Linked DNA regions of Homo sapiens: regions 2, 3 and 4 are each linked to region 1. Evidence: fine-mapped expression QTL. A gene starts in region 1. Each other region holds a variant in brackets. All regions are shown on one strand. Distances are from middle to middle. Region 1 holds the start of SLC2A11 (solute carrier family 2 member 11). Region 2 has its middle 28 kb from the start of LINC02556. Region 3 has its middle 5.2 kb from the start of GGT5. Region 4 overlaps SLC2A11 (solute carrier family 2 member 11).

Region 1 (5,148 bases):
TGTAGTTGAGGTCGTCTTAGGGATTCACAGAAGTATTTATCTTTCTCCTTTGGTGATTTTCTGTTTTGTTTTTTGAGACAAGGTCTCATTTTGTCACCCAGGCTGGAGTGCAGTGTCGCAATCTTGATTCACTGCAGCCTCAACCTCCTGGGCTCAAGCGATCCTCCCACCTCAGCCCCCCAAGTAGCTGGGACTACAGGCACACACCATCATGCTGGGCTAATTTTTTTGTAGAGATGGGATTTCACCATATTGCCCAGGCTGGTTTCAAACTCCTGAGCTCAAGCGATACACTCGCCTTGGCCTCCCAAAGTGGTAGGATTACAGGCGTGAGCCACCATACCCAGCCCACTCTTTTGTGATTTTTAATTACAAAATGACACGTTTGTTAAGATTTTTGAAAATTCAGTATATACTGAAAGTTCTCCACTCCTCCAAAGGCACAACAATTAACTCCTTCCCTCAGGTATTTTCCTAGATATTTGCAAAGTAGTTGACTTTACAAAAATTGAATCGTTGATATCTTCCCCCAAAAAATACTGCCTTTCTTGTTCTGGCAAATTGTTCTGTAGAATTAAATGTATTATTTTTGAAAACTTTGATACAATTTTCATGACAGAAGGATGTTTGGCTAAGGTTTTCTGAAGTTTCCAGAACCTACGGACTATTTATTCATTTATTAGTCAAATACTGAGTGTTGGCCGGATGTCGTGGCCCACACCTGCAATCCCTGCACTTTGGGAGGCCGAGGTGGGCAGACCACTTGAGGTCAGGAGTTCGAGACCAGCCTGGCCAACATGGTAAAACCCTGTCTCTACTAAAAATACAAAAATTAGCCGGGCTTGGTGGTGGGCACCTGTAATCCCAGCTACTCAGAAGGCTGAGGCAGAATTGCTTGAATCCGGGAGGGAGGCGGAGGTTGCAGTAAGCCCAGATCGCGCCACTGCCCTCCTGCCTGGGCAACAGAGTGAGACTCCATCTCAAAAAAAAAAAAATGCTGAATGTTTATCTCAGCCAGGAAGTGTGCTGGGGGGCAAGATACAGCTGGGAAAGAGACAGCTGTGCTTTCACCATTCAGTGAGATACTGCACTGGAGGCTGGGGGAGCAGAGGAAGTGGCTCTGGAGGGCAGAATCCTGCTGAAGGCCTTGCCATAGGTCTGGAGACAGGTTGGTGACAGGGGCCCTGGCTGCCCATAGTTCCAATAAGGCCTAAGTAACTTTCTCTAAGGCTGGAAGCCTTAGGAAGAAGCCAGGTGAGAAACCTGGCATCTGGTCCCATTGAGGCCAAATTACAGCTCCACGGGGGCCGCATGGAAGTGAGAGCTCCCTTAAGACAGCAGATGTGAAGGAAGCAGCGAACACAGTGCTTGATGGCAGCTGAGCTCATGTAGCAGGAGATATTGACAGGTCTCTAAGACTACAGGAAATCGTTGAATTCAATGAGATCATGCATGGAGATTGCCTATACCGTGCCTGGTCATGGTAAGCATTCAGACATTAGCTACGATAGGGACCATTAATTCAGCAAACAAAGATTTATTGCCTCCCTATTATGGTCAATAATCCTACTGTTCTAGGTGTTGGGATACAGCAGTGAACAACAGACAAAATCCATGAGCTGTCAGAGCTTTCCTTCCAGCAGAGAAAGACAAGCAATCGCAAAATGAACAAGCAAAATATATAGTACATCAGCTGGTGCTACAGAGACTTAAAGCAGTGAAGGGGCGTAGGAAGTGTTTGGACCAGGTGGTGCTATTTTATTTTATTTTATTTTATTTTTATTTTTTAGAGACAAGGTCTCGCTACGTCGCCCACGCTGGAGTGCAGTGGTGAGATCCTATTAGATCCCTGCAGCTTCGAACTCCTGGGCGATCCTCCCACCTTAGTTGGTGCTATTTTAAATAAGGCTGTCAAGGAATACAAGTGCAAATCAAGACAAAGGAGGTGAGGGAATGTGCCATGCAAATACCTAAAGAAATCAGTCCAGATTGGGAAGGAACCCCTAGAAGCGGTGGGCAGTGCAGTGCGGGCGCTCTCCTCTGGCTGCGCCCTTTCCCTCTGTGAGGCAGGACGTCAGGTCAGAGCTGAGGGAGCATGAGGAGGAAAGAGGCGGGGGTGGGAAACAGTCTCGGGAGGGGGCGAGCAGTCAGGATTGCAGCGCTCGGAGGGCTTACTGCCTCTGAGGTCAGGGCTGATCGGCAGAGGATTTAGCATCTCTGGGGGCTGGGATGCCAGGGTCCAGCAACCTTGCTCTGGCCCACAGGCCGACCCTGGGCGTAAACACCTGCCTATGCACATCTGAGCCTAGCACCTAACGCCACTGTACATACAAGCACGATATTTTTGAACATTTGACGACTTAGTTAAGCCTCCCAGGTGGCTGCACCTGCGCAGTTCACTCAGGTCCGCAATCCCTCATCTGAAACGCCTGGTCTGGGCAAGTATGAGAATTCATACCATTCTAGATCGCAGGAGGGCGTGGAGCATTCGAAAGAGGGGCCTGAGCGGAGGTCTTGCTGTCCCAGGGAGACCCCGGCTGCCATTAGCAAGCGGTGAGCCGGCAGCCTGTGCGCGGAGGGAAGGGCAGCGCGCAGCGCCCAGTGGTGAAAGAGGCGCTAGCGCACGCGCAGTGAGCGTTTGAGAGGAGCAAACCCGTCGAGACGAAGCTGTAGCGCAAGCGCAGTGGGTATTGAGAGCGGCCGCACCAGCTGAGGGTTCGCGCAACGCTAAACGATGGCCGGGACTAAGGCCTGAGACTCAAGCTCAGGCGCAGTGAAGCGCAGAGCCGCTAGAGTGTCGCGGAGGGCGCCTGAGGCGCATGCGCGGACTCAGCGTTTTTAAGAAGGGCTGGGGGTGCTGGGGAGTTCGCCCCAGCGTGTTGGGGGGGAGTCGCCGCCGCGGGGGGGGGGTTTGGGGTCACCGCCGCGGGGTTTGTCGCCGCCGCTGGGAGCTCACCTGCGTCCGAGGCCGTAAGGACGGCTCCAGTTCATCCTCCATCCGCCTCTGCCGCAGCACTGAGGCTGAAAAGCCGCTCACTCCTTACTCGGCTAAGCCCCAAGCTCATCTCTGCAGGCCGGAAGGGAGCTCTGGTCCAAGGTCATCTCGGCCAAGCCCCTGCATTCGCCCTCGCAAGTGCCAGCAAGCGACTCTGGTCGCCGCGCTCCCAAGTCCTCCCCCGAAATTCCGGCTCTGGCCCCTCGTCCCCCTCCTTTGCTACAGTCTCTGGACTAAATGTCTGCGGGTCTCTGTCTCTCGCTGGTCTGACCTCAGCCGCAACCCTGCGCGATTCCCTGCGCCGGTCGCCACTGCCGGCCGCCAGAACCTCGGAGGCCACTGCCCCTGGGCGTTCTCCGGAGGGCCAAGCCCTTGGTTGTGCACATCTATGCACGCCCCACCTACACCCCCCCCCCCCCACACACACACACTTTGGTTCAGGTATCCCCGACCTTTCCCCAGAGGACGGGAAAATTAGGAAAGACCGAAAGATAGACCCACCAGTCTTCGGAGCGCTCTCATCTGTGCGTCCTGGGCAGAGCGAGAGACTTGGCGGAATGCGGGTAGGAGAACCGGTCTCGGGTTGCCGCCAGGGGATCCATTGCGTGAGAGGCAGGTCCGACTTATGCTGGGGGCACTTGGAGTTGAGGAACCACAGAGTCCACTGAACCGGATTAATCTTTTATCCCTCAGGGCTTCTCAGGCCCTGCATGGAGGAATCCAGGAGCTGGACAAAGACCAACTGAAACTAGACTTGCCAAAGATGCTATTTGTGGTCACAGAAACATAGAGCTGGACATGACCTTAAGAAGTCACCTGAGCAGACACTGTGATGGGCACTGTAGTAGCTCTATTGCTCAGACTTGGTTTTTGTTTGACTTTTGCTGCTCTGAACTTTAATTCCTAAAAACACTGCATTTTTAAGGAAAAACACAAAATATTAGCAGTTATAATAAATAGGTATTTTATTGCATGCTTTTCGTGCATCTATTAAGATGATCATATGGGTATTCTCCTTTAATCTGTTAATGAGATCAGTTACATCAATAAACTTTCTAATGGTAAACCATTCTTGAATTCTTGGGGTAGACGCAACTTGGTCATAATATTATTGTTATTAATACATTGTTAGTTTCAACTGCTGATATTTTATTTTGATAGGTTAATTTTTTTCTTTTTTTTTTTTAATTTATTTATTTTTTTTTTATTGATCATTCTTGGGTGTTTCTCGCAGAGGGGGATTTGGCAGGGTCATAGGACAATAGTGGAGGGAAGGTCAGCAGATAAACAAGTGAACAAAGGTCTCTGGTTTTCCTAGGCAGAGGACCCTGCGGCCTTGGCCTTCCGCAGTGTTTGTGTCCCTGGGTACTTAAGATTAGGGAGTGGTGATGACTCTTAACGAGCATGCTGCCTTCAAGCATCTGTTTAACAAAGCACATCTTGCACCGCCCTTAATCCATTTAACCCTGAGTGGACACAGCACATGTTTCAGAGAGCACAGGGTTGGGGATAAGGTCACAGATCAACAGGATCCCAAGGCAGAAGAATTTTTCTTAGTACAGAACAAAATGAAAAGTCTCCCATGTCTACTTCTATCCACAGAGACCCGGCAACCATCCGATTTCTCAATTTTTTCCCCACCCTTCCCGCCTTTCTATTCCACAAAACCGCCATTGTCATCATGGCCCATCCCCAATGAGCCGCTGGGCACACCTCCCAGACGGGGTCGTGGCCGGGCAGAGGGGCTCCTCACTTCCCAGTAGGGGCGGCCGGGCAGAAGCGCCCCTCACCTCCCGGATGGGGCGGCTGGCCGGGCGGGGGGCTGACCCCCCCACCACCCTCCCGGACGGGGCGGCTGGCCAGGCAGAGGGGCTCCTCACTTCCCAGTAGGGACGGCCGGGCAGAGGCGCCCCTCACCTCCTGGATAGGGCGGCTGGCTGGGCGGGGGGCTGTCCCCCCCACCTCCCTCCCGGACGGGGCGGCTGGCCGGGCAGAGGGGTCCTCACTTCCCAGTAGGGGCGGCCGGGCAGAGGCGCCCCTCACCTCCCGGACGGGGCGGCCGGCCGGAAGGGGGGCTGACCCCCCCCACCTCCCTCCCGGACGGGGCGGCTGGCCGACCCCCCCCCCCCCACCCCGCCTCCCTCCCGGACGGG
Region 2 (5,148 bases), 500 kb after region 1:
GCAGATTGTGATGGGTGAGGCTGGAGCATACCAAGCCTCACAATAGATCTCATTTTTGTTTAATACGTGTAACACCTCTGGCACCACTTCAGCTGTAAGCAGTATGTCTCTTGTTTAAGTGGCAGTTGGTTGGGGTTATTGCTTTTTTCTGGGGAACACCCTCTGGTTTCCCATGTGGAATTACATGATGTGCAGAGTAAAATCCTAGGAACTGGCCTTAACTTCTAAGCAGTTGGGTAGGACTTGGGAGAGTGGGCATATCTGGGGGCTTCAAATGAACTCCCCCAAACCTCTCCACCTCCATCAATTTACCCCAGCAGATATATGGAAAGCACATATTAGAGCAGGCATTGGGCCACAGCAAGCCCATGTCCTACTGGGCCCCTTACTCAGCTTTGTCTGTGAACCATGGGATTGATCAGGTGTAGATTTTGTGGTGGAGAACACTGAACTGGAAGACAGAAGTCTGAGAATCCACTGGGTGACATTTGGGGATTCCTTGTGGAAAGACGGGGTTGCTCTGGGGGAGGGGCTCTCTCAAGCACCCTTCACTGTGGCTCTGCACTCTATGAATCCAGGATTCTATGACATTCTCCACCGCAGCCTAGGCATATGCAGTGTTTCTGGAACCTCAGTTATTCTCATACTAATATCGTGGTTTTTTGCCTTATCAGCGTATCATCTGTACTTCTATGAGCAGTTTTCTTTAAATGAAGTAACTCTTTTTACTTCAACATGTTCACTCAAAAAGGAGACTTTATACCATTTCCATAAGTGCAAGACCTGTATAACCTGCAATAATTAGAGGTATGCATGGAAAATGTGTGAGTGCAGTTTTTTAAATTAAATTGATGGTAAAAATAAAAAGTACATAAAGAAATGACAGTAAAAACACTTCTAGTTTACAAAAGTATATAACTGAAAAAAAGTCACTTAATGGGAAAAGCGAACCATTGAAGGCAAGTTAGTTACATGAAAGCAGGGACACCCTTGATCGCCATCATGACCACCAGGTAGGTGACAAGGCATTGGCTCTGGCAAGGGTCATTGTCACCAAAGTCATTTCCTTGAGCTTCAGGGAACATCTTCCTGTTAACATTCAGTTCATTGGGCAGGAGTTGTATTATGTTTATACCTTCCCAGGCCCATGATGTTGTGTTATACTTAGGGGGTCAGACTCCCTGGAGTCAATCAGGTCCTAGGACTGACTGGTCAGAGCATCTAGAGGAAATTTTGGCCTGGTGGTGGGTCGTAGAGAAGAGACCTGTACTCCCGTGGGCATAACTAGTCAGCCTCATTGGCTCAAACAACTGGAAGTCGGGTCATGTACATTCATCAGGCAATCACCCTGAGACTGCTGAGCAAGACTTATTAGTGAGAGCAGGGTAGACTATGGTAGCAAATAGGCCCAGAATTTCAATGGCTTATTTTTCGCTTAGGTAAAGGACTAGAATGTTGTTCAGGTCAATAAGGTGGCTGTCCTCCATATGGTCATTCAGAGATTGAAATTAAGGTGTCAGCAAACTTTCCCTATAAAAGGGCCAGATAGTACGTACTTCGGGCTTTGCAGGCCATGGGCTGTCTGTGACAACTGCTGTGGTAGTGAAGGTAGCCCTTAAACAATACCTATGCAAACAGGCATGGCTGTTCTTCAATAAAACTTTATTTTTAAAAAGACAGTGGGCCAGATTTGGCCCTTAGGCTCTAGTTTACTCACTCCTAATCTAGACTACGGTGTCTTTGCCATCCTTAACTCATGGTTTCTAAAGTTGCCATAGGTGTCAATTCCCCATCACCTGGAACAGGCAGGAGCAGAAGTGTGACCATGGAGCATTTGTATGGGCCAGGCCTGGCTGTGGCACTCTTCACTCCCACTCAGAGTCCATTGGTGAGAACTTATTCACGTGGTCAATCTAATTGCAACCAAGGCTGGAAAATGTAATCTGGCCGTGTACCAAGGAAGGTGGGACAGATTTTAACAGATTGCCAGCAATCCTTGCCACAGGTAATATCCATTAAACCATGGACTCGATAGTAAGGTGTTTTTTTTTTCCTAATGCACAGCAAAATAAATACACATCCATTCTATAAGTGCTTTATAGTTTCTATGCCATCTAAAATGATCTCGCATAACTCCAGGAATAAGTGCACTACACTCTGATAAACACTAAGTTTTTGTGTTTCTTTGATTCAAATCACAAAAGCCTGATTATAAACCCAGATCCTATTTGTTAGCACTACTCTATTAACCCTTCCTTTAGCCTGTTAAGAATAAAATGGTAACAAAGATGATTCAGAAAGCAATGTAAAAATTTAGACTCAGAGAAGTTAAGATTGAATTATAATCTGGAAAGAGCCCTGTAAATTCAAACTATAGATTACATTGTAAGCATCCAGGTGAATAGAGTGGCCTCCATAGAGAGGCATGTGCTGTGTGTTTTCTTGCCCTGAGAACTGTCAGTGTTCATATATCTCAATGCCCAAAACTGTGATGTCTCTTGATGGTACCGGGTATTGAGACATGGGCAAAATTTGGAGAGGCAGAGAAGAAATTAACATTGGTACAAGGCAGATTCAGGGGCTTCTTGGGGAGGCCAGTTGGACTGGAAGGGTGAATGGAAGACAGAGAGCTTCAATGCCAAGCTAAGGAGAACAGACTTCATCCCTGGACAATGGGGAGGAGA[T/A]GCTGAAAGTCTTTAATTCTGAGACTGACACGATGAAGGGCATTTCCAAAAGTAGAGCCTGGCAGAAGCAGCCAAGCCATCTGAAGGGACCAGTGGTTATTCTCAAAGGGAAACTCCTACACACTCTTCAGGAGGGTAGAAGGTAAACAACTCCTTTTTAAAGGTGCCTAAGTCCTATGCTTGCAAAAGCTTGGCTTTGGGGCTTACACAGGACTCAGCAAGCATAAATGACATTAAGCTTCTCCAAAAAGCTGGACTGTAGAAAGGTCTACCCAAATCCCAGGAGCTACTGATGCTGGCCCTATGTTCTCACTTTAGAAGGTCATGCAAGGGACTAAATCTCTAGAATCCTTTGTGGGCTGGGTCACAGCTGGGGTGGGGAAGTTGTAGCCCTTCTGAAACTTCCCACATAGCTGTCCTTCCATGGAGGCCAGGAGCACATCAGGGTGGGTACAGTCCACAGTCCTCTCCATCCCACCAGCCAGGCTCCAAGGGGTCTTCACATCCACAAAATACCATTTTCACAGATCAGTAGCATGCACACCAAGACACGCAAATTCAAACCAGATATCCAAATGGCACCTATTGAATTTGCAAGGATCTTTACCACTATTCTTTCAGTGGTAGTGCCTAGTGGCAAGAATATAGAAAACCAGGAACTTTCACCATTGATGTGAGAGATCAATTAGTTCAAGCTTTCTTGGGGGCAATTTGGCAAAATCTATCCTAACATTTCAAAGGGGCATCTCTTTTGCCCTAGCTATTTTTTACTAACCATGTTCTTTATTGTCTCCTTTCTGATACTTTAACATCCAGGGCTTTGCTGCTCCTGGAGGGTGCTCCTCCCAGGTTTAGCCAATTCCTAGAAATAAGCCACTTGTCTCTTAGTGTGCCTTTCATATACAAACTCACCAATCCAGAGCCCACATCCCCAACCACCTCCTTTATGGGGCTCTCCCACTCTGGACTAATAGCCTCACACCCTAATCACACCAGGGCTAGGTACCAGATGGAACAGCCCCGATGCCACAGAGCCCACTGAAATTGTTTGAACTAACCAATCCTGAACCTGCTCACCTTGCCTTACCTCTTCCTTCCTATGGAAACCACAGCAACACCTCTTGCAACATCCCCCATCCCCACCACCTTCTGACAGACTGCAGCATTCTCTGTGCAGCCTCTTGCTCCCATGGCATGGAGTGTCCCCTTGTCTTGGGATTTGCAAGTAACAAACTACTCTTTTCTTTTCTTTCTTCTTTCTTTTCTTTTCTTTTGTTTTAGATAGAGTTTCACTCTTCTTGCCCAGGCTGGAGTGCACTAGCACGATCTCAGCTCACTGCAACCTCCATCTCCCAGGTTCAAGCAATTCTCCTTTCTCAGCCTCCCAAGTAGCTGGGATTACAGGCACCCACCACCATGCCCAGCTATTTTTTTTGTATTTTTAGTAGAGACAGGGTTTCACCATGTTGGTCAGGCTGGTCTCAAACTCCTGACCTCAGGTAATCCATCCACCTCGGCCTCCCAAAGTGCTGGGATTACAGGCGTGAACCACCGTACCCGGCCCAAATTGCTTTTTCAATGGCTGACATCTGATCTGTTGGCCCTGCCATACCTAAATAATAATAAAACCTTTACTTTAAAGCACTATTCTCTAGGAATAATTCTGAATGAACCCAAAGATACATGTATCAGATGGTCACCTCAGTGAAGTTGACAATAGTATAAAATAGGAAATGATTTGAATGGCTAACAATAGTAGATGGTTAAATAATTTATTGAGTATTACACTATGGGAAGCAATGTAGCTGTCAAAAGGTAGAAAAAATTGTTTTTAAATGTTTGTGTAAATGAAAAATCGTTCACCACTTCCTGTGAAAGAAGAGGGATCCAAAATTTTTTATTTCCCCCCGCCAATTATCCTTAAAAAAAAAAAACCATGAAATAAAGTTTTTAAAGCTACAAACCCACATAGACAAACTGTGGAAGAAGAGATGACAGCATTTTGGACACTGGAAGGCCAGCTTTTTTGAGATGGAGTCTCGCTCTGTTACCAGGCTGCAGTGCAATGGCACAACCTCGGCTCACTGCAACCTCTGCCTCCTAGGTTCAAGCAATTCTCCTGCCTCAGCCTCCCAAGTAGCTGGGACTACAGGCACCCGCCACCATGCCCAGCTAATTTATTTTTAGTAGAGACAGGGTTTCACCATGTTAGCCAGGATGGTCTCGATCTCTTGACCTCGTGATCTGCCTGCCTCGGCCTCCCAAAGTGCTGGGATTACAGGCGTGAGCCACTGTGCCTGGCCGAGAACTAGTTTTAGAACCGAGAAAGTAAACGTTAACTAATGGAGAGAAAGACACCATCATGCACCTATGCAATCAGAATAGACAGAAAAGACTCCCTGGGTTTAGGGGTACTAGGTACCTGTGAAAGTTTGGGTATAGGTATCCCCCACTTATGCCCATG
Region 3 (5,148 bases), 390 kb before region 1:
GTCCAGTAGGCCCAGGCAGTCTTGGGACTTGTGTGTCTCCTGCTGTGCATCCATACTGGGTGCTTTAGAAACGGCAGGCAGACCAGAAGCCCCTGTTGCAAGTGAGGACAAAGTGTGGGAAGGCCGTGAGGGTCTGCAGTCCGAGATGGCCTTGTCCTCAACCTGCAGTGCACTGTTGATGCGCTGGAAGGCCGCCTCCTTCTCCCGGTCCAGGTCTTCAACAGTGACCCGGTACCCCAGCTCTAAGGGAGGTGGCAGCATCAAAGGCTCCCCTCGCCTGCGTGGCAGCAGGGGAAACTTGTGTGTACTGGGCCTAGAGGCCTCGGATGTGGAGGAGTCATTCCTGAGGGTGAGTGTCTGCCCTGGTGCTATATCTGCTGCCTTTTCACACTGGGTGTGACCTGAAGAGACAGCCTGAGGCCTGTCCTCACTCACTGTCTTTGAGGAACTGAGGGTCAGCTGGCAGTGGGATGAGGCTGGCCCCCTCCTCCGCTTTAGCCCCGGCAAGCCTCCCGTGGAGCTGTAGGAGCTGGAGATGGCATTTCGGTTGGTGCAGGAGCTCGTCCAGGAGGTCTGGGATGTCGGGTTATATCTGATTTCTGACCTCTGGGCATGGAGGTCTGTCTGCAGAGGCCCGGGCCCGGGCACAAAGGGAGAGAGGCCTCCATTGTCCCGCAGGGGCCGAAATGCAGACGGTGCATCCCCGGTGACCTCGGGGACCCTTCTCTGATCACCAGGATTCTCTTGGACTCTAGGGTCCTTGTCCTGCTCAGGCATCCCTGCCCCGCTCTCCTTGAGGGCCCTCAACACTATCTTCCCTGGACACAAGTCTGGGGACAGCCGGGTGTTGTGGACCCCAAAGGGGTGACTCCCGGCTCCTGGGCCCCACAGAGAGTCCATGTTCTCAGTGCAGTGGCTGAGCTGGAGGACGCCCTGGAACTCGGAGCACACAGCACTGGCTTGCTGTGGTACCTGTGCAATCAAATTGAAGGCAGGATCCCAGGAAGGAACGCAGGGCTTGCAGGATCACGGAAAACCTTCTTAGAGTTGTCTTGACACCACTGATGTCAAGTGTCCGGGTGCTTGTAGGATGGCCTGCCACTCAGTCCACGGGCAGGAGCAACGGGGAGATCCCACAGGCAAAGTGAACTGGGGGATGGGCTGAACGGGCTCCAGGCAACTGAGCCCTACTGGCAGGTCCTCGGCCTGGGCCCGAACAGGAAGGAGGGGCACAGAGTGCCCAGGTAACCGCTCCTGGGAGCAGTGGGGAACCGTCGGTTGCTTGAACTCTCGAGAGCTGGGCTCTGAGCGTCCTCGTCCAGCCGCCAACTCCGCCAAAGGCTAAGCCAGCAGTTTCTTCTGTTGCCGGGCAACGCGCCTTTTAAACCTGAGGGAGTGGGCGCGTGAGCACATCACGGCGCCCGTGACAGAGCGAGCTTAACGGATTAATAAGCGCAGCCAGGTACCCGCGCGAGGCACTTGCTGGCAATGGCGGGAGGCGGACGTGGGGGGTCATGCAATAGGTACTGGAAGGAGAGAGGCGGGCACAAAGGTTGCGGGAGGAACAGGTGCCCACAATGGTGGCAGATCTGCCCGTGGATCACTGAAGATTCCTGCTCTCCTGCTGAGGTGGAGATTGCAGTGAGCTGAGATCGCACCATTGCACTCCAGCCTGGGCAACAAGTGCAAAACTCAGTCTCCAGATAAAAAAAAGAAAAAGAAAAAAAAGAGGCCGGGCGTGGTGGCTTATGCCTATAATCCTAGCACTTTGGGAGGTCGGGGCAGACGGATCACGAGATCAGGAGTTGGAGACCAGCCTGGCCAACATAGTGAAACCCCGTCTCTAGTAAAAATACAAATTTAGTCAGACATGGTGGCACGCGCCTGTAGTCCCAGCTGCTCCGGCGGCTGAGACAGGAGAATCACTTGAACCCGGGGGCGGGCGGGGAAGGGATTGTGATGCGCCGAGATCGCGCCACTGCACTCCAGCCTGGGCAACAGAGCCAGACTCTCTCTCTTTTTTTTTTTTTTTTTTTGAGATGGAGTCTCCCTCTATCGCCCAGGCTGGATTCCAGTGGCCTGATCTCAGCTCACCGCAAGCTCCGCCTACCGGGTTCACGCCATTCTCCTGCCTCAGCCTCTGGAGTAGTTGGGACTGCAGGCGCCCGCCACCACACCCGGCTAATGTTTTGTATTTTTAGTAGAGACGGGGTTTCACCGTGTTAGCCAGGATGATCTCCATCTCCTGACGTCGTGATCCCCCTCCCAAAGTGCTGGGATTACAGGCGTGAGCCACCGCGCCCGGTGTTGAAACTC[C/T]CTTGAGGCATTTTCTTCGGCCTTCGGGTCCATCCTCTGTCTCCTCCTTGACCTCCTCATCTCCTCCTCGCCACTGCCTTGGGGACCTTGGCCAGGCTCATGGCATCCAGCAGCCACTCAATGTCAATACCTCCATGTTCATCTCTCAGCCCGCCCTTGCCCGTGAACCCATGCTTATTTATTTATTTTTTTATACGTGCACCCATGCTCTTCAGGTCTGATGAAGTATCCAGAATCAAGCTCCTGACCATCCCCAAACCTGCCCTTTCTGCAGGGTTTACCTCGCTAGTCGGCACCATCCTTGATTCTTCTCTTTCTCCCACCCAGGCCATCATCTCTTGCCTGGTTGATACCCACAGCCTCCCCTTTGGGCTTTATCCTTATCCCCGTCATAGCTGCCAGAGGGACCCTGTGAAAACACTCCCCAGCCTGCTCATTCCTCTGCCCTAAGCCTGCATGGCACAGAGCAAAAGCCAGTTGTTATGGGACCTAGGAGGTCTTGTGGGATGGGCCCCAGCCTGCATCTTCATCCTCTTCTCCCCACCCCACTCCATTCACTCTTTGCCTATCGCTCACCAGCCTATACCACCTGCCTCAGGGCCTTTGCACTGACCATTTAGGCCACATTCCAGGCTCTTTTCACACGTTGCCTCCTCTGAGAAGCCCTCCCTGACCACTCTGCCCATACCTCATGCCTCTTGATTCCCCTTACCTGGCTTGTGGTTTCAGCACTTTCCCTGTGTGTGTTTGTTTTTCTTGGCATGAGGGCAGGACCTAAGTGTCTGTTCCCTGTTGATTCCCCAGTGCCAGGCATGCAGTGCAAACTCTAGAAATATTTTTTGCATGAAGGAATGAGTGATTGAATGCAGCAAGGGTCTGGAGGCTGAGGACCAGGCAGACAGACATTCAGAGTTGCTGGAACGCGACAGAGACAGGGAGTCAGACTGGTCTTGCAAGATCCTGGGCCTGCCCTTGGGTCCTGGGGAGCCACGGAAGGTTGTGGGTGCCAGAGGGTTGTGATCAGAGCCACAGTCAGGGGCCTTTTGAGACCTGTGCCCCCTCCCCACCCTCCCTCCCCACCTCCTCAGGCCAGCTCTGGGGTCTCGGCAGGTGGTCCGCAACATGACCTCTGAGTTCTTCGCTGCCCAGCTCCGGGCCCAGATCTCTGACGACACCACTCACCCGATCTCCTACTACAAGCCCGAGTTCTACACGCCAGTTGATGGGGGCACTGCTCACCTGTCTGTCGTCGCAGAAGACGGCAGTGCTGTGTCCACCACCAGCACCATCAACCTCTAGTAGGGGCTGCTGGGCCGCCTGGGTGGGAAAGGGCCAGGGGCGGGTGGCCCAGGGACTGCCCACTTATCCAGTAAGGTGGCTCCGTCACCTCTTTTCCTGGTGGGAAACTGAGGCCCAACCTTGGTAGCTTATCCTGGGCCTCTCAGTGAGTATGTTTGAGCCTCAGTGGGTGGATAGGGACCAGGCTGGGCCAGGCAAGGTCGGGCACTGTCTGACCTGGCTGGGCGGTAGCTTTGGCTCCAAGGTCCGCTCCCCGGTCAGCGGGATCCTGTTCAATGATGAAATGGACGACTTCAGCTCTCCCAACATCACCAACGAGTTTGGGGTGCCCCCTCACCTGCCAATTTCATCCAGCCAGGTATGGGGTGGAGGTCCGGGGGTGGGGGACTGGGGTGGAGAGGGGCGGGTGTCCTGGGCAGGCAGCTGACGGGCATCCCTGTCTTCTCCCATCGGCCATAGGGAAGCAGCCGCTCTCGTCCATGTGCCCGACGATCATGGTGGGCCAGGACGGCCAGGTCCGGATGGTTGTGGGAGCTGCTGGGGGCACACAGATCACCACAGCCACTGCACTGATATGTGTCACAGCTTTTCTCCCTGGCCGTGCCCACCCTGCACAGCCCCCAAGCCACGCTGATCACACTCCCATGCCCCAGGCCATCATCTACAACCTCTGGTTCGGCTATGACGTGAAGCGGGCCGTGGAGGAGCCCCGGCTGCACAACCAGCTTCTGCCCAACGTCACGACAGTGGAGAGAAACATTGACCAGGTGGGCCGGGGGTTGGAGAAACTGAGTCACGGTGTGGGGCCCCAGGGCATCCTGGGCTGGAGGCCTGGATCATCACAGAGTGGACAATGGTTGGTGTCCTCTCTCTAGTGCCTGGGCCATCTGGAGCCCCTGTGACATGAAGGCCAAACCCCCTGCTCCAGTGAGACCCAGCAGGCCCCAACCTGCTCTTCCTGATGACCTGGCCCGAAATGGCACCACCTGGGCTGAGGCCTGTGACCACACAGATGTGGTTCAGGTGGCATCTGGAGCCTTGCTCAGGCTTCCCCTCTCCTCCCACCCCCAGGCAGTGACTGCAGCCCTGGAGACCCGGCACCATCACACCCAGATCGCATCCACTTTCATCGCTGTGGTGCAAGCCATCGTCCACACGGCTGGTGGCTGGGCAGCTGCCTCGGACTCCAGGAAAGGCGGGGAGCCTGCTGGCTACTGAGTGCTCCAGGCGGACAAGGCTGACAAGCAATCTAGGGACAAGATACTCACTAGGACCAGGAAGGGGACTCTGGGGGACCGGCTTCCCCTGTGAGCAGCAGAGCAGCACAATAAATGAGGCACTGGAGAGGCGGGATTCGGAGATCTTCACGCTGCGGTCGCTGGAACTAGCCTCAGCATCTTCAGCATGGGGAAAGCCAGGCACGTGGCTGGGGGCCAGGGGAAGGTCCATGCCAAGCCCTGCCCCTTCCCACCCTGATCCCTCAGACTTGGGGCCAGGCCCTCCCTTCCCTGGGCTGGGCAGCAACACCACCTA
Region 4 (5,148 bases), 27 kb before region 1:
AGAGAACCCTGTCTCAACAACAACAACAAAAAAAAGTAGACAAAATATTTGAACAAATTATTCATAAAAGAAAACCCACAAATGGCCATACTGAGCACATGAAAAGATGTCAAACATTATTAGTCATTAGGGAAATACCACAATTAAATGACAAGATACCACTACACACTCACTAGAATGGCTAAATTGAAGAGACTGACAATACCAAGTGCTGATGAGGATCTGGAGTATCCAGAACTCATACATTATTAATGAGAATGTGAAACAATATAATCAACCACTTTGGAAAACAATTTTTATACAGTTAAATATACATTTATTATTAAGCCCAGCAATTCATTTACCCAAAAAGCTAGACTGACTGTTTATGTCCTCCCCAGGTTCATACCTTGAAACCTAATCCCTCATATGATGGTACTTGGAGGTAGGGCCTTTGGGCCTCCTCGGAGGTGATTAGGTCATGAGGGCAGAGCCTGCATGAATGGGATTGGTGCCCTTATAAAAGAGACCCCAGAGAGCTCCCTTGCCCCTTCTGCCATGTCTAGGAGAACACAGCAAGAAGACCGCCATCTATGAATCAAGACATGGGCCCTCAACAGACACTGAATCCACTGGCACCTTGATCTTGGACTTCCCAGCCTCCAGAACCATGAAAAATAAATTTCTGTTGTTTATAAGCCACCCAGGCTGTGGTTCTTAGTTATAGCAGCCCGACGGACTAAGACACAAAAGAAATAAAAACATATGTTTAGACAATTATTATTGTAGGAACATTCACAGCAGTTTTATTCATGATGGCCAAGAATTAGAAACAGCCAAAATGTTCACCAACAGGTAGATGGATAAATAAATCATGGTCTAACCACAGAGGGGAATACTACTCAGCAATACAAAGGAGTCTCTCCTAATACGTGCAACAACATTCATGAATCCCAAAAACTTTATCTGGAGCCAAGCCAGACACAAATGTGTACATACAGTACGGAATGACTTCAGATTCTGAAAAAAGGCAAATCTGACCAATTGAGGCAGAAAGCAGGTCAGTGGTTCCCCAGGTCTGGGACTGGGGTGGGTTACTGATAGCAAATGGGCATGTGGGTGCCTTGGGGTAGGGTAAAGGTTCCATCTTGATCACGGTGGTGTTTCCCAAGTGTATACACTCACCAAAACTATACTTAGAACTCAAAACTCGCCAAATATATACTTAAAATGGATGCAGTTGGTTATGTATAAATTATACCTCAATAAAGTTGATTAAAAACATCAATTCCTCAGAAAATTCTTTTCTGACCACTCCCCTCTCAGACGAGGTCGGGCCTCCTGGTATGCATACCCATACCCACTACAACCTGTATTTATTTTTTTTGAAACATGGTCTCTTTCTGTTGTCCAGGCTGGAGTGCAGTGGCTCAATTAGGACTCACTGCAGCCTCGACCTCCCAGGCTCAAGTGATCCTCCCATTTCAGCCTCCTGAGTAGCTGGGACCACAGGCATGTACCACCACACCCAGCTAATTTTTTTTTTTTTTTTTTTTGGTAGAAACAGGATCTTACTATGTGGCCCAGGCTGGTCTCAAACTTCTGGTCTCAAAGCAATCTTCCCATCTTGGCCTCCCAAAGTGCTGGGATTACAGGCATCAGCCACCTCACCTGGCCAACCTGTATTTTTCTTTCACTGCATTTCCTGAGTCTGTAATTATTATTATTATGTTTTAAAGAGATGAAGTCTCCCTCTGTCACCCAGTCTGGCATGCAGTGGTGTGATTGTAGCTTACTGCTACCTTGAACTCTTGGACTCAAGTGATCCTGCTGCCTCAGCCTCCTGAGTAGCTAGAGCTGTTAGCACATACCACCATGCCCAGCTAATGTTTAAAATTTTTTGTAGAGATAGGGGGTCTCACTATGTTACCTAGGCTGGTTTCAAACTCTGGCCTCAATTGATCCTCCCACCTTGGCCTCCCAAAGTGCTGGGATTACAGTCATGAGCTGCCACAACCAGCCTGTAATTATGTTGTTACTGATTTTCTGTCAGTTAATTACCTTTAGCCTGGAATACCACGCTCACCATTGATTGCTAAGCACCTGGAGCCATGTCTGCACACAAAGGGTGCTCAATAAACACTCCTTAAATGAGGAATGCAGGAGGGAGTGAGGACCAGGGCCCTGGCAGGAAGCAGAGGACAGGACAGTAGCTGGCTTTGGCTCTGGCCACCCCTTTGGGACTAGAGTTCTGTTGACTGGATAACCTCCAGGCTCCTCCACGTGGGGCCCTGGGCCCGCCTGGGGAAGTTGAGTCTGTGTAATTCCTTGGAGATCTCTTGGAAGGTCTTGCCTTTGGTCTCAGGAAGGAACAGGCCAGTGTAGATGG[C/T]CCCACAGACACAGACACCAAGGAAAGGGACATAGAGGAAGTGGGACAAGGCCTCCTGCGGATTAAAAAAGACCCCAAGACCTGGTGTGTCTCCATCAACCCCTAAACAGAAGGCCCATGACAGGTCGTGAGGAGGCATTTGCCCCCCTCTTTGCTCCCCTAAGACCCCTCCCTTTCAGTCTCAGTCTCCCTGGATGGAAGCCTCCCCCTGGGGTTCTCAGGATGACAGGGACACAGCCTAAGGCAGGGCCCCCAGCGGGAGGGGCGGGCCTACCATGATAAAGGGAAATCCCAGGCCGACCAGGATGAGCATGATCCACATGAGCGCCCCGCAGACCATGCAGGCAGCAGGCCTGGCCATCTGGTCAAACAGCTCTGTGGCCAGGATCCCCGTCACTCCGGCTAGAAGGAGGGGCAGGGACAGGGGGCTGCTGGCCAGGGTTCCCTGCCTGCCTCTCCCCGACCCCAGCCCAGACATGGGAGTGGGAGCCCAGGCCCAGTCTGTATGGGGGGCCCCTCAGTGCTCTCCTCCTGCCATTCCCTCCCAGAAGCCCCGGCATGAGGTGGTCTCTGAGGGCCTGCAGGGGACATTGCATTCACACCCACCCACTGTGCACCCAGGCACCCATCACTCCTTCTATGTGATGATGGATGCCCAGAGCCCCTTGGGCCCACTCACCAGGGCCAATGCCAAAGCTGAGGATGAAGGCAAAGATGCAGGCCATGGCCAGGTAGAGTGTCCAGGGGAAGGAGCTCTGCCGTGGACGGGGCGGGGGTGAGGTGGAAGTCAGCCCGGCCTGGACCCCCCAGCCCTCATCCACCCCAGCTACCTGCAGGCACAGGGCCACAGTGAAGATGCTCCCCCAGCAGGTCATCAGGCTGTACCCACCGATGAGCAGCACGCGCCGACCCACCCTCTCGATTACCACACACTGCAAAGGCAGAAAGCACAGACCCACACACCCAGCCATGGTCCCTGAGGTCTGGGGCAGGCAATGGGAAGGGGTCTCCTGAGAAAGCTGGTGGTGGAGGTGAGGGTAGTTTATTGCTTCAGTGTGACTTTATTAATTTCCCAAAGGAACTTGGTCAATCAATCACCCAACTTCAGCCAGTTTCCGCATCTCAAAATGGTGCTGGAAGTGACCCGCAAACCGTAGATGCTCAATAGATGCTCTCTAACTCACTGCATTGATTGATTGATTGAGACAGGGTCTTACTGGTCTCACTGAGCTGAGACAGGGTCTCACTGGTCCAGCCCACGCTGGAGTGCAGTGGCACAATCTCGGTTTACTGCAGTCTCAACCTCCTAGGCTCAAGTGATCCTCCCACCTCAGCCTCGCCAGTAGCTAGCACTACAGGCGAAGACCACCACGCCTGGCTAATTTTTGTATTTTTTGTAGAGACGGGGTTTCACCATGTTGCCCAGGCTGGTCTCCAACTCCTGATCCCACCTCAGCACTATTGCCTGGGCTGGAGTGCAATGGCACCATCTCGGCTCACTGCAACCTCCACCTACTGGGTTCATGCGATTCTCCTGCCTCAGCCTCCCAAGTACCTGGGATTACAGGCGCCCGCCACCACGCCGGGATAATTTTTTGTATTTTTTAGTAGAGACGGGGGTTTCACTGTGTTGGCCAGGCTGGTCTCGAACTCCTGACCTTGTGATCCACCCACCTCGGCCTCCCAAAGTGCTGGGCTTACAGGCATGAGCCACCGCACCTGGCCCCTCACTGCATTTTAACACCATAAGCTGGAGTGTAAACTGGTTTAATGCAGAGGACCTGGGGGTCCCTCCCCACAGGGCTGGTGGAGGAAGGGCACCCTCCAGACTCACACTAACAACCGCCGTGAGCAGCTCGCAGCTCCCAGTCCCGATGATCGCGTACTGGATCTTCGCTTCCGGCACTCCTGCCTTCCGGAACACGGAGGAGGCGTAGGCGTACACCTGGGAGAGGGTGGCTTTCAGGCCTGGGCTCCCTTCCACCTCCCATGGCTCCCAGCGGCCTGCAACACCAAGCCCCCGGGGCCCAGGGTGTGCGGCGGGGCAGGGGTCTCACCGAGTCATTCCCGCAGAGCTCCATGGCACTGCCCAGAACCACGAGGCTTGTCACCTGTCTCCTCAGGGCCCGATGCTGGAACAGCTCCCATGGGCGCCGGGCACGGCAGCCCTGGCAGGCAGCGCGCTCCTCCTCCAGCTCCTCCAGCTCCCCTGCCAAGTCCCCGGAGCCCCGGAGCCGCCGTAGTGCTGAGCCAGGGAGGAGGGTACTGAGCTCCCCGTCCCCAAGCCCCTCTTTGGTCCCCCTACAGGGACGCCCCCCTCCATCCCACCATTCCTTTCCTTCTTGGCTCACTCTCTGTCTCTGAGTCTGTCTGTGTGTGTGTGTGTCTCTCTCTCTGCCTCTGTCTCTCTCAATCTCTCTGTCTCTGTGTGTGTCTCTGTGTGTGTGTGTGTTTCTCTCTCTGCCTCTCAATCTCTCTGTCTCTGTGTCTGTGTGTGTGTGTGTGTTTCTCTCTCTCTCTGCCTCTGTCTCTCTCAATCTCTCTGTCTCTGTGTCTGTGTGTGTGTGTTTCTCTCTCTCTCTGCCTGTCTTTCTCAATCTCTCTGTCTCTGTGTGTGTCTCTGTGTGTGTGTGTGTTTCTCTCTCTGCCTCTCAATCTCTCTGTCTCTGTGTCTGTGTGTGTGTTTCTCTCTCTCTCTGCCTCTGTCTCTCTCAATCTCTCTGTCTCTGTGTGTGTGTGTGTGTGTGTGTTTCTCTCTCTCTCTGCCTCTGTCTCTCTCA

What was found.
Region 2: its variant is fine-mapped to the expression of SLC2A11 in thyroid (GTEx, PIP 0.96).
Region 3: its variant is fine-mapped to the expression of SLC2A11 in spinal cord (GTEx, PIP above 0.99).
Region 4: its variant is fine-mapped to the expression of SLC2A11 in whole blood (TOPMed, PIP above 0.99). The same link has a PIP of 0.9 or more in cerebellum and cerebral cortex.

The regions. Positions count from the first base shown.
Region 1 is chr22:23,855,340-23,860,487 of GRCh38, reverse strand. It overlaps SLC2A11 (solute carrier family 2 member 11), which reads right to left and starts at 2,613. Exons shown (of 12, transcript NM_001024939.4): 1 at 2,459-2,613. The coding sequence starts at 2,488.
Region 2 is chr22:23,351,814-23,356,961 of GRCh38, reverse strand. No RefSeq gene overlaps it. Among named protein-coding and RNA genes, the nearest start is that of LINC02556, 28 kb to the right of the region's middle. The variant T/A (reference allele first, on the strand shown) is at 2,685.
Region 3 is chr22:24,247,757-24,252,904 of GRCh38, reverse strand. It overlaps the pseudogene GGTLC4P and the pseudogene POM121L9P. Among named protein-coding and RNA genes, the nearest start is that of GGT5, 5.2 kb to the right of the region's middle. RefSeq lists enhancers at 824-1,324, 4,132-5,120 and a silencer at 5,030-5,148. The variant C/T (reference allele first, on the strand shown) is at 2,317.
Region 4 is chr22:23,881,924-23,887,071 of GRCh38, reverse strand. It overlaps SLC2A11 (solute carrier family 2 member 11), which reads right to left. Exons shown (of 12, transcript NM_001024939.4): 7 at 4,426-4,613; 8 at 4,203-4,313; 9 at 3,199-3,300; 10 at 3,048-3,123; 11 at 2,643-2,770; 12 at 760-2,423. The coding sequence ends at 2,223. Among named protein-coding and RNA genes, the nearest start is that of MIF, 9.9 kb to the left of the region's middle. The variant C/T (reference allele first, on the strand shown) is at 2,369.